2 separate regions of the Homo sapiens genome follow, and region 1 is linked to region 2. Evidence: fine-mapped expression QTL. A gene starts in region 2. The other region holds a variant in brackets. All regions are shown on one strand. Distances are from middle to middle.

Region 1 (5,000 bases), 100 kb before region 2:
GGCACAATCATGGTTCACTACAGCCTTGAACTTCCGGGCTCAAATGATTCTCCCACCTTGGCCTCCCAAAGTACTGGGATCACAGGCATGTAGCACTGCACCCAGCTATCCTTTTTTTTTTCTTTTTTTTAAGCAATAATTTTAATTGTTCCTTCCCTTCACCTCCCAGTTTCTGTCCTTACACGCTCACATCCTCTAGAGCTTGGCTATAAAAGTTAACGAGGTAGCAGTTGCAAGCATTAGCAAGATGCTTTCGGCAGTTTGCCAAAAGCCAGGGAGCCCATCTTGAAAAGAACGTAGTCACCCCCTGCCGTCATGCCCTGACTGCCCAGCATTCTGCGTGAGTGGCAAAGCCCAACTCAGGAACACAAAGCAAAAGACAGCACAGCACACACATGAACTTTTGCCACTTTTGTATTTTATTGTGGAACTGAGTTTTTTTTTTTCCTTTACATCAAATATCCTCAATGGAAGAGGGGATATTGCACACAAATATCATAAAAGCACTACATATTACTTTCACTGGAAACTAATTTTCTACATTAGATATGACTGGATAGGATAGAAGTGATGCAGGATTATAAGACATAATACCATACACAGCTGCAGACTGACACAAACACCATTCAGAACAAGAGAGAGGAGTGTGAAGTGCTTCTCAGCTGGGCTCAAGACCACTTCTTTCCAGTGCTGGAAAGAGGGGCTGCATGCAGTGTAGGAAAAGCGTGTCTCTGAACTGCCACAGGGTGTTCTCGAAAGGGCAGCCCGGTCTTGATGCCACTTCTCCATGGCTCCTGTTTTGGGGAGCTCCAAACAAGTGCAGAGAAGCTGCCTATTTTTTCCCTTCCTTTTCAGTTTTTGATGCTGCCTTTAAAAATCAACTTCATGAAGTCACAGATTTTTTAACAGTAAATAGTTTTAATACCAGGTGAATAACCTAATTGCTTTCAAAGAAATGCTCATCCCTAGGCTGCTTTTGGTGTATTGTTCAGTTGGTTAAAAGATAAAAGCTTACAGTTCCTTTCAAATGGAAACAGGATCTTTTCTTCTAAATCTGAAGCACAAAAAAAAAAAGTTATTATCCTAACTCACAATATCATTACTGAGCAGGAACCTCCTGTGACAGGTGACTAAAGAGAGGCAAGAAAAGCAAATTCAGAATTGTAGAGCAGCTCCTAAGAGCTGAAATTTGGTAACAGAGGGAAAATGAAAGGTGGTAAGATTTCCATTAGCAAATGATTAAATCTTAATTAAATGAGTATTGGAAAGCTCCTAGACTGCATAAGCTATTGGAGACACTTAAAACATTCATATACACTGGGGAAACCATTCACTATGATATGTAACGTTAAGAAAAAAAATTTTTTTGAACTCCATGGAAAATGGTGTTTAAAGAGGGGAGGAGGGGAAGTTAGTCATTGTATCCAGTCCCACCACAAGACTGAGAAAGCATGCACAGGGCTCAGGGTTTTGAGAAAGGGGACAGAATTGGTTAAAATTGAAAATGGAGGATCATCGCTAACATTTAGTCTCTGTAGAATTTTGTTTAAGAATACTACCAAAAAGGTCATGATCATGAGTGCTATCTCGATAGAATCCCATCATTTAAACAGAGTGTAAATTCCTTCCACTCAAATATTCAATCTATACAATTGGATTAAGTAATCAGTATGAACAAAGCTCCTAGAAGTCTGTGTCGATCTTTAGCTCTCACCATGAATGTACATGGTACATTGTGATGGCTGTTACTAAACTAATCGTGTATTTATGGAACTAGCAAAATTAGGTTAGTCACACAGGCAGGAAAGGTGTCTGGAAGGACAGGAGCAACCTGTAATGCGAATATTGGTTTTCTTGGTATACTCAGGCTCTGTGGTCATATTGAGAACAACGGATGGAGAAAGGTACTGATAGATTTCATAGGAAAAAGAGCCAGCTGACTAGTGACAGTTTTTACATATTTTTCCCATTAAATCCCATAGCAAAAAAAAAA[AAAAAAAAAAAG/G]AGAGAGAGAGAGAGAAAGTGAGGAGGGTGGAGTGGTTATAACTGAAGACTGGCTATAATTCTCCTACAATGTTTATAGTTTTTAAAGCAAAATAATGTTCAGGTTAAATACATTTAATTGTGAAATTGGAAAATAACTTGCATCTTCTGTCAAAGAAAAATCAACCAGAGGTCTGGATTTGGCAAGAAGGCTAAAAATCTGGTTTTCTTCCCACGCATTATGTAGACCAATTCAACTTAAGAGCTAACCATTAAATAATTATCTTGAGTATCTTAGGTTGTGTTATAAAATAAATTTGAAGTAGATGAGTTTATACTCAATGAAATTCATTGGCGTCACAATGACTTTTCCATCATGTGTTAATTTCTTGTACCCTTAATATGTTATTTTCCAAGGACTTGAAAGAAATGGGGTAATAAATAAAAGCTGCATTTCTAGAGAAGCCTAACAAAAATAGAATATTAATTTTCTTTAAAAAATTAAACATTTGAAAAATGTAATTCACAGCATTAAGTAGACTGCATAGGTCCTCAGTGAAAGGACCCTGAAGAAGCATTTTTTTAAACCCTCATCATAGTTAGCAGTGCAAAACATAGACTTATCAGACAAAAATCAACTAAAATGTTAATTTTGAAATAAATAACTAACATAGAAAATAAAATGAGGTCATTGTTCTCTACTCCGTAGATCTTAGAGTCTGCAGGAAATGTAATGTGACAGAGCACAGCACAGTTGTCACGGAGAAGTTTGCCTCATCTGAACACTGGGTGCATTGATCTGCAACTTGAAACTTGATGTCAGTGTTAATCATGATCTGGCTTCCCAGGTTCACAGTTCAATGATGACAATGATGGAAATTTTCTCTAAACTCTACATGAACCGTAGGAGTTGAGAATTCATTTGTTTTCAATGTACTATTTCTTTTATTTTTTTTTTCCAGAAAAGAAAATCCCAAAGCAAATTTGTGCTAGGGTTCTTTGAACTTGGCTCTTTTACCTCATGGTTGAAGATCTTGAAAGAAGTATGTAGGATACCACTGGGTGATGTACTTGTCAAGGCCCTGAAAAGTAGCCTACCATGCCATTCTCCCCCACTCTCAAGTAGCACTTTTATGTTATGGGAATCAAGGGGTGGGAGGTATCATTATTCCTGGTAGTTATGGGTTTTTAATAAATATCATTACTGCAATATCAGACTTCAATCTTGCCAGAACTTCAAAAAACATTATTCAATTTTTGTCTTACGAAACACTTAAAAAAAAAGACTATCACTTGAGAATTTTCTTTGCAATTTCCTGTAAATGAAAACATTTGTTAAAAAGTTCATCTATGAAAAGTTCTCACATATCTTAAAAAAAAAATTCTTCTGTACACTTGTTCCCATAATTATGTTGAAATTAATGGAAAATTTAAAAAGCCAATGTAAGACAAAGGAAGGTAAATACTGTACACTTGCTGAGAACCTCTTCCACCATAAGATTCACTGTTTTCCCAGTTCTGATCATAGAAGCCATTTCAGTCTTGAACTTGCAGTAGTAAAGAAGCTGTGAAAGGCACAACTTGTTTGACTGAGAGGCCACAGGTGCACTGAAGTGGGATTCAACACGCATGACTCAGCATCAAACTGTTGGACCAATCAGATCAGCTTCTAGTACCCCCACACACGCTCACCCACGTGTTCCTTTAAGTATCTATAATCCTATATGGATGTTTTATAAACTTGCTGTCTCACATTAAAAAATAAGTGCATCAAGTATCTTTGTACATTCAAGTCACTTCCTAAGGCAAATTGTCTACCATATGTACTCCCAACTGCTTTGGTATTTGCTTCAGTTAATTGGGGTGGACTTGGGTGTTGCTGCATGCAGGTTAATCGACTCAGAGTGGACTAAGTGGGTGGACAAATGCTGGGAGCATGCCTTAGATCAATCTACTTGTGTGTTTAGAGTCTGAGAGTTCTGAATGGGGCCCAAACCACTTGCATGGCCAGTCTACACTCACTACATTATGTCAGTGTGCAGCCTTCAAACTGAAGGAGCTTAATTAAGATGTGAAAATATCACATGCCCTCATAACAAGTGTTGTTCTTTTTACTTTCTTCTAGCCAACTTGTTTTAGAAAATTAAGACTCTTTTTGATGACTCAGACTGACAAAAATGGAAAACTTTGCCTATGTAGACTAAAGAATGCCTACTGCCTGAGAAAATGCAGACCTAATTGTTGGTTTATTTTCTCCTCCTTACCCCACCCTGCTCTCTCTTTTTCTCTCTGGGTATCTCACCAGAACTCTCTGTCATTACATCTCCTTCTCTTGCATTCCTTTTCTTTCTCATTCTTTCTCTCTCTCTCTCCTGCGTTATCTTTGTGCTCTCACTCTCTCTCACTCTCTCCCGCGCTCTCTCTCTCTCTAAGACAAATGCCTCTACCTAGCAGAAGTCAGTTGGGTTGGCTAGTGCATGGTTTCCAAATGTTCAGCAGAGATGAACTGGGGTAGGTAATTTTGCAGGAATTTGAACCCTATTGTGGAAATACTGTTATTTCCCTTAGCAATCAGCAAAAACTGAGAAATTTAGTGACTTGCATCACCATGACACAGTATAGCATTTGGCAGGTAATTGTTCAGCGACTTAACTAGATGAATTGACTTTTTAGAAAAGGTGATTTCAAATTGAAGAATTTCTGGAAACAAAGTTCAGATCCTGTGGTGTGGCTGGCCTTGGTTTTTACAGTTCAATCTTGCATGCAGGGAAGGATTCATCTTGCATAACCACTGTGCTGCTGCTTGCTAAAACCATGATGTTGAGATCTTGCTGTTTCTCATGGGTCTCCTGGTACCATTCCCTCATCACTTCTGAGTCATGAGTTGGGATCAGTGTCACCTGCAGGGAGAGAAAAAAAAAATAGCTATTTAAGGGCAGAAACAGAAACCATATGAAAAAAATTGAATAGCAAGGTATTAGACCACTGGAAGAAGAAGGGAAATGAGAGAAAACTTT
Region 2 (5,528 bases):
TAATGTCTGTTTCTTGATCTGGGTAACCCAGGCGTGTCCGTTTTGTGAAAATTCGTTGAGCTGCTCATCTTTGATTTGTGCCCTTTCCTCTCTATATAATACTTCAACCGAATTTTTTAAAAAATTAATGTCAAGAAGACAAATCTGAATTTTGTCACTAAGTGCTAGTAGTGTAAAAACGAGTAAAGGCAGGGAGCCCTTCTTCATAGCAGTACGTGGATGCGTCTGTTTTCTCCATAAATAGATGCAGCTTGTATAAACCCTCTGAGGAATAGGGCGCTGAAAGGATGATCAGATGAGTAACAAAGCAGGAAGATAATTACGATCCGAAGGTGATTGCTGAACCATCTCCCAGCATGGGGCGCTGCCCACAAGTGGATGGCCATACAAAGGCAAGCCCTGAAAACTGTTGTACTGAAACCTTCCTCCCATCATAGGATGTTAGCCAACCCTGCACTAACATCATGACAGGGTCAGAAAACGAGTGACGCTGCAGTACTGGTACTTCTGTCACTTATGAGTGCTGTGACCTTGAGCCGGTTCTCTTACCCTTCCTGCCTCTCTGGGCCCCCAGCTCTAAAACGGGGTTGATGATCCCTCTCCTAGCACCACCACATCGAATGGTTATGAAGATTTTGTAGATAGAAAAGCACCTCCTAATATATTCCTATTTCCCAGAAATGCTACTTACAAATAATTTTTTAAAGAAAAAAATCCAAAGTCATTGATTCCCACAATAGCCACACCCAAAGTCAGTATGTGTAAAATTTTTCCAGGAGAAAATTGTGCAAATAAACTAAATTAGAACAGATTAGACCAAAGGCCTATATAGTCTGAAAATGAAGGGTTATTGAGATGCTCAAATAAGACATTTCACTACTGAAATATCTCTTGTTCTTGAATTTTTTGGAATAAAATACTATGACTTTCTGCTCACATTTTTTTTCTTTTTTTTTTTTAAGCTAAAAGGGAAAATCAAGTGCTTTAAAGTTAAACAAAAGAACCAGGTCTGCAACTCCAGTCCCCACCCTGCAGCCTTTTGTTCTGGGGACAAGTGGCCGTTTCCAACTGCAGAGGCAGATGACAAGCATTTATTTTTTCATCTAAAACAAGGTTTTTCTTTCGTCTTTTATTGGGGAGGGGGAGTGGGGAACGAGGGCTGCGTGAACGCCCTTTGTCCGCCTCGGGCTGCCGTAGAGACCGCAGTGCGGACTGCACCACGCCCACCAACCGGTGTCTCCCGGAGAAACGCTTCAGCACCACCCCAGGAGAATAGAGCGCGGGCTGGGGCTGCGGAGGGACCCGGCGACCTCTGTCAGGAGCGAGGGGAGGGCCGGGACGCCAGGGATAAAGGGAAAGGCAGAGACCAGAGCTGCCCACCCAGGGACTCCCAGGGCAACAAAGCCAGGCAAACTGAGAGGTGGGGGCGCGCGGCCCCCGCCAGCCCGAGGCCCGGGCGGAGCGCAAGCCCAGCCAGCCGTGCCCGACGGGGGCGCCGCAGTGTGGGGGGGCAGGTGTGGCGGGCGGTCCGGAGGCACTGCGGCAGCTCGGGTGGGGCTGGGGGCGGTCTCTCTGTGCGCCCGAGGCTGTGCCCGCCGGACCCTCACGGCCCCGCCCAGGGTCCCCGGCGTACCGCTATTCGGCCTCCGCAGAGCGCGCCACTGGTGCGAGCACCGGGCGAGGAGCTGACCCTACCCGCTGACGTCTCCCTCACCGACCCCCTTCAAGCTACCACTCCCGAGGCTGGGACTTCTAAAAGCAGCAGCCCCACCCCGCAACTTGGGGTCCCATTGTCCTTTCTGAGAGCTGCAGCCAAGGCCCCAAGGGCGGTAGCGAGGCGGGCTCTGTCTGGTGGCGAAGCGCAGGCGGTTCTGCATCCCAGCATCTCCCCGGGGAGGGGGGGGCGGGGGGAGCGGGCGTGGCCCTAGGACTAGCCTAGTCATTCTGAGGAAAGAAAGGATCGGGAGGTTTGAAATCAGAAAAGGCGTTTCTCAGGGGCTGAGGTAGCCGTGGTGAGGATGAATCCCACGCGGGCCCTGGCACATGGGCTTCGGCCCCAGGTCTGCGGTGGTGGGGGTCCCAGCCTTTTCCTGAGGCCAGAAGAGGACTGAAAGGAGTGGTTGCATCAGGTCTCCCCCACCCTTCTGCCTCCTGCGGTTGCGGCTTTATTGTGGCCTCTGCTCCCCTGACACCTGCATTTCACTTAGCGGGAGAGGCGGTGGCCAACTCAGCACAGGCTGCGGACTCAGCGTGGTGACAGATCCCTCAAGGTTATTGGAGACTCTCCCTCTGGGTCTCATATCTAATAATTCGGATTATTCTTAATTAGCCCAGAAAGGGTCTGGACCAAGTATGAGAGGTGACGAGGAGAGGCATGGGTGCGGGGCGCGCGGGAGGAGCGCAGTGACCGTCGCGCCCTGGGTGGGGTCGTGTTTGCGCGTCTCCCAGCGCGCGTCTCTGGGGGCGCGGGGCCACTTACCGAGCTCGATGTTGCCGATGGCACGCCGCAGGTGCTCCTCGGTCACGATCTCGCCGACGACCACCAGCAAGTAGAACTTGCTGTCAAGGAAGCGGTGCGACAGGCTAGGCGAGGTGGACGCCGCCGGGTTGGCGATGCTGCCGGACGGCTCCGGCTCGGTGGCTTCCACCACCACGGTCGCCATCCTGCCGGCTGCTGTGCCTCGGCGAAGTGTCTCGCTCCGGCCGCTCCTCTCCACTGCGGCAGGAGAAAGGATTATCTCCGAAGGTACTGTCTCCGCTCCGCCCCCTGCGTCCCCCCTCCTCTGGCGCCGCGCGCCGCCTCCCCCTCCGCCCTCTCCCAGCGCCGCGGAGAGTGCGCGGCGGAGAGGAGCGGGGAGTGAGAGAGGGCGGGGAGGCGGCGCCGCTTTTATATGGAGACTAGGCAGGGAGCCGGGAGGAGGAGGAAGAGGAGGAGGAAAGGACCACCCGGCACATCCTCACGCGGTGGCTGCCTCCGCTCTTCCAGCCGTTGGCCCGGGGCTGATGTCATCTGCAGCAAATCATCTCGCCCGCGGCCCGGAAGCTGGAGGGACGAGGTGTGCGGACAATGGTCGGGGCAGGGCCGCGAGCCAAGGGGCTGGGGCGCCCGCTGAGCTCCTGCTGCAGCCGTGAAGGGGGAAGACGCTCTCAACCTACACCACCCACCACGTACACACCCACTGCCCACTCCTCACCCTCACCCTGTCTGTGCATGGGAATGGGATGAGTTTCCATTTTCGGAGTGGGGGTCTTTTCTCTTGTTGGAGTTGCACTAGTCAGGCCTCTGCCTTGTGTGCTGTGTATGATGTAGCCAGGTTCTCAGGAACTGGGATAGCCACAGTGGGCAGATGCGGGGCTGTGGGTACCCCGCCTAGGAAGACGGAACCTGTCTTTTCTTTGACCTTGTGGCTTTAAGAAGACGAATTTACTGATATTTACCAATATCAATATTTACCACCTTCACTTAAAGAATACATCAAAAATGCAAAACTTAAGCCTACTATTGTTCAGGCCTTGGATTCTACTCTGGCAGGGCCAAGGATGAAAAAGTACTGGCTTTGTGGTGCTCATGGGAAATGAGAGAAATGCAGATGTATTATATTAGATACCAATTTCTTTCCTTAATGTGCTGAACAGATAGTATCAGTAATAACAAAGAATAAAGAGAAGATACTGTCTCTACTCAGCAGGGTTACAGTGACTATAATGTACTTTTCAGTTCCTTGGGGAACACACAAGCAAAATTACCTCGTGACAATGATGTCTTTTAAAATACCTGTAGCATTGGGAATTTTTATTGCCTTTGTTTGTGTTTAGAAGAACTAAAAAATGTGTTTTTTGTTTTTGTTTTTTTGTTTTTTTTTTTAAGGCAGCCTATTTACAACCGTTTCTCACAAACATACTGAATATAGCTTCTGTCCCAGAAAAGGGGAGGAGGGTGAGGAAAGAGCAAAATGTGCAAACATGGTATCATAGAAGACTGGGGAATTCGAGCTTTAAGGAAGAGGAATAGATGGAAATTAGTCAACATAGCTTTAATACTAGAATGCCTGTTAGTAAAATATAGATGATAGATAGATAGATAGATAGATAGATAGATAGATAGATAGATAATCACCTAGATATTCTTAAGATTTCCAAAATAACCCAGTGTCTTAGGTGTTAGCTGCCATGACTTATTGGTCATGTACTCTTTGCTCTTATATCTTTCCTGACACCCTGGCATGGGAGACATGCTGGGCAGCCAAGGGCTGGGGGGTTCCATCCAACATGTCAATCTGATCAATGCAGAATGAAAATACCGTCTGGCCCGCAGTATTTGGGATCTGTGACAGGATCACTAGAGAGTTGCATTCACCAGTAATTAGATGAAGTGTTTCCAACTAGCTGCATTCACCAGTAACTAGATGAAGTGTTTCCAGATAATATTTTGGTTAAGATATTCAATTGCTGTTCAAGAAGTAAGGCCAGCACCAAAGCCCATAACTGGGGTGAGGGGCAGGAAATATGGTGAAGAGCACTGTTTTCTAAAGGTCATCCGTTGGATTCCAGCCTCATCTAGTTTGTGTTTGGTTTTCCTTTCTTTGAACCATTGTTACTTTTATGTATGTAATAGTTTTCTTTTATGCAGTTTATTTCTTTTACTTAAATTTATTTTTAAATGCAATTCTATGTTGCTGTATAAATGGAAACACTAATATCACTTATTAATAGAAAGTATCCCTAAAAATATACACAATGAAGATAAGATGTGATCAAATTCCTGCTACATACTGTTATGATTTGCTCAAGACTCTGAGTCCAAGGCTCTCCTTTCTTGGTTGAAAACAGAGATTGGCCAAGTGTTAGAGAGGTATTAAAGAGATACTAACACCTAACTGAGTTGTTCTCCATGTTGCAACAGAAGATTGGATGAAAATTATAACAGAGCGCTTTCTTACTGTGTGTGTCTGTGCAATTAAACACCATGACCGTGACCACCTAAGTCATCACCCACACTTTGAAAAATAGAGGCATAATGGGAGAACACAGACTAGGGATGCAGAATACTACTTTACAGCTCGGTAACTTTGGCAAGTGACTTACTCTTTTTGATCTTCCATCTCCTTATTTAATGAGAAGAAGAACATCTTTATAACTGTTAAAGTAACTGTAAGAAAGAAGGAAATGATAGAATGTGTAAGCACCTAATACAGTGGCTGGGCATAGTAAGCAATCAAGGGATGGTTGATTCATTGACCTGTTTTCTCCCAGTTACTAAGACAATGGAGCAAAAGCAGTCTTATAAAATGTGCAAGTGATACTGCTACAACACCTCTGAAACAAGAACAGAATATTACATTATTATACTTCAATACTAGAAAAGTAGCCCCTTCCCCTCTTCATCCCAAGAAAATGTATACAGTTCTAAGGAGGAAAAAGGGGGAAAACTAACATATAAGAGCACCAATATTGCCAGCTGCTCAACTGACATCACCTGGATATACCAAAGGCACCAGAATCTTGACATGCTCCAAACCCAAATCATC

Alleles and levels. Positions count from the first base shown, and alleles are read on the strand shown. Sizes are in standard deviations (SD) of each study's normalised expression.
As copies of G replace AAAAAAAAAAAG in region 1, the expression in iPS cells of the gene that starts at base 2,720 in region 2 goes up (large effect, 0.76 SD a copy in PhLiPS).

Evidence for each region. PIP is the estimated chance that this variant, and not a neighbour inherited with it, causes the effect. A credible set is the group of variants that fine-mapping cannot tell apart.
Region 1: its variant is the best candidate, but not a certain one, in a credible set for the expression of MAP1B in iPS cells (PhLiPS, PIP 0.70).

The regions. Positions count from the first base shown.
Region 1 is chr5:72,204,967-72,209,966 of GRCh38, reverse strand. It overlaps MAP1B (microtubule associated protein 1B), which reads right to left. Exons shown (of 7, transcript NM_005909.5): 7 at 402-4,883. The coding sequence ends at 4,728. Among named protein-coding and RNA genes, the nearest start is that of MIR4803, 38 kb to the right of the region's middle. The variant AAAAAAAAAAAG/G (reference allele first, on the strand shown) is at 1,994.
Region 2 is chr5:72,104,667-72,110,194 of GRCh38, reverse strand. MAP1B (microtubule associated protein 1B) reads right to left here and starts at 2,720. Exons shown (of 7, transcript NM_005909.5): 1 at 2,480-2,720. The coding sequence starts at 2,663. It overlaps LOC105379028 (a long non-coding RNA gene), which reads left to right. Exons shown (of 3, transcript XR_007058813.1): 1 at 1-1,420; 2 at 2,208-2,270. RefSeq lists enhancers at 1,119-1,413, 1,819-2,801.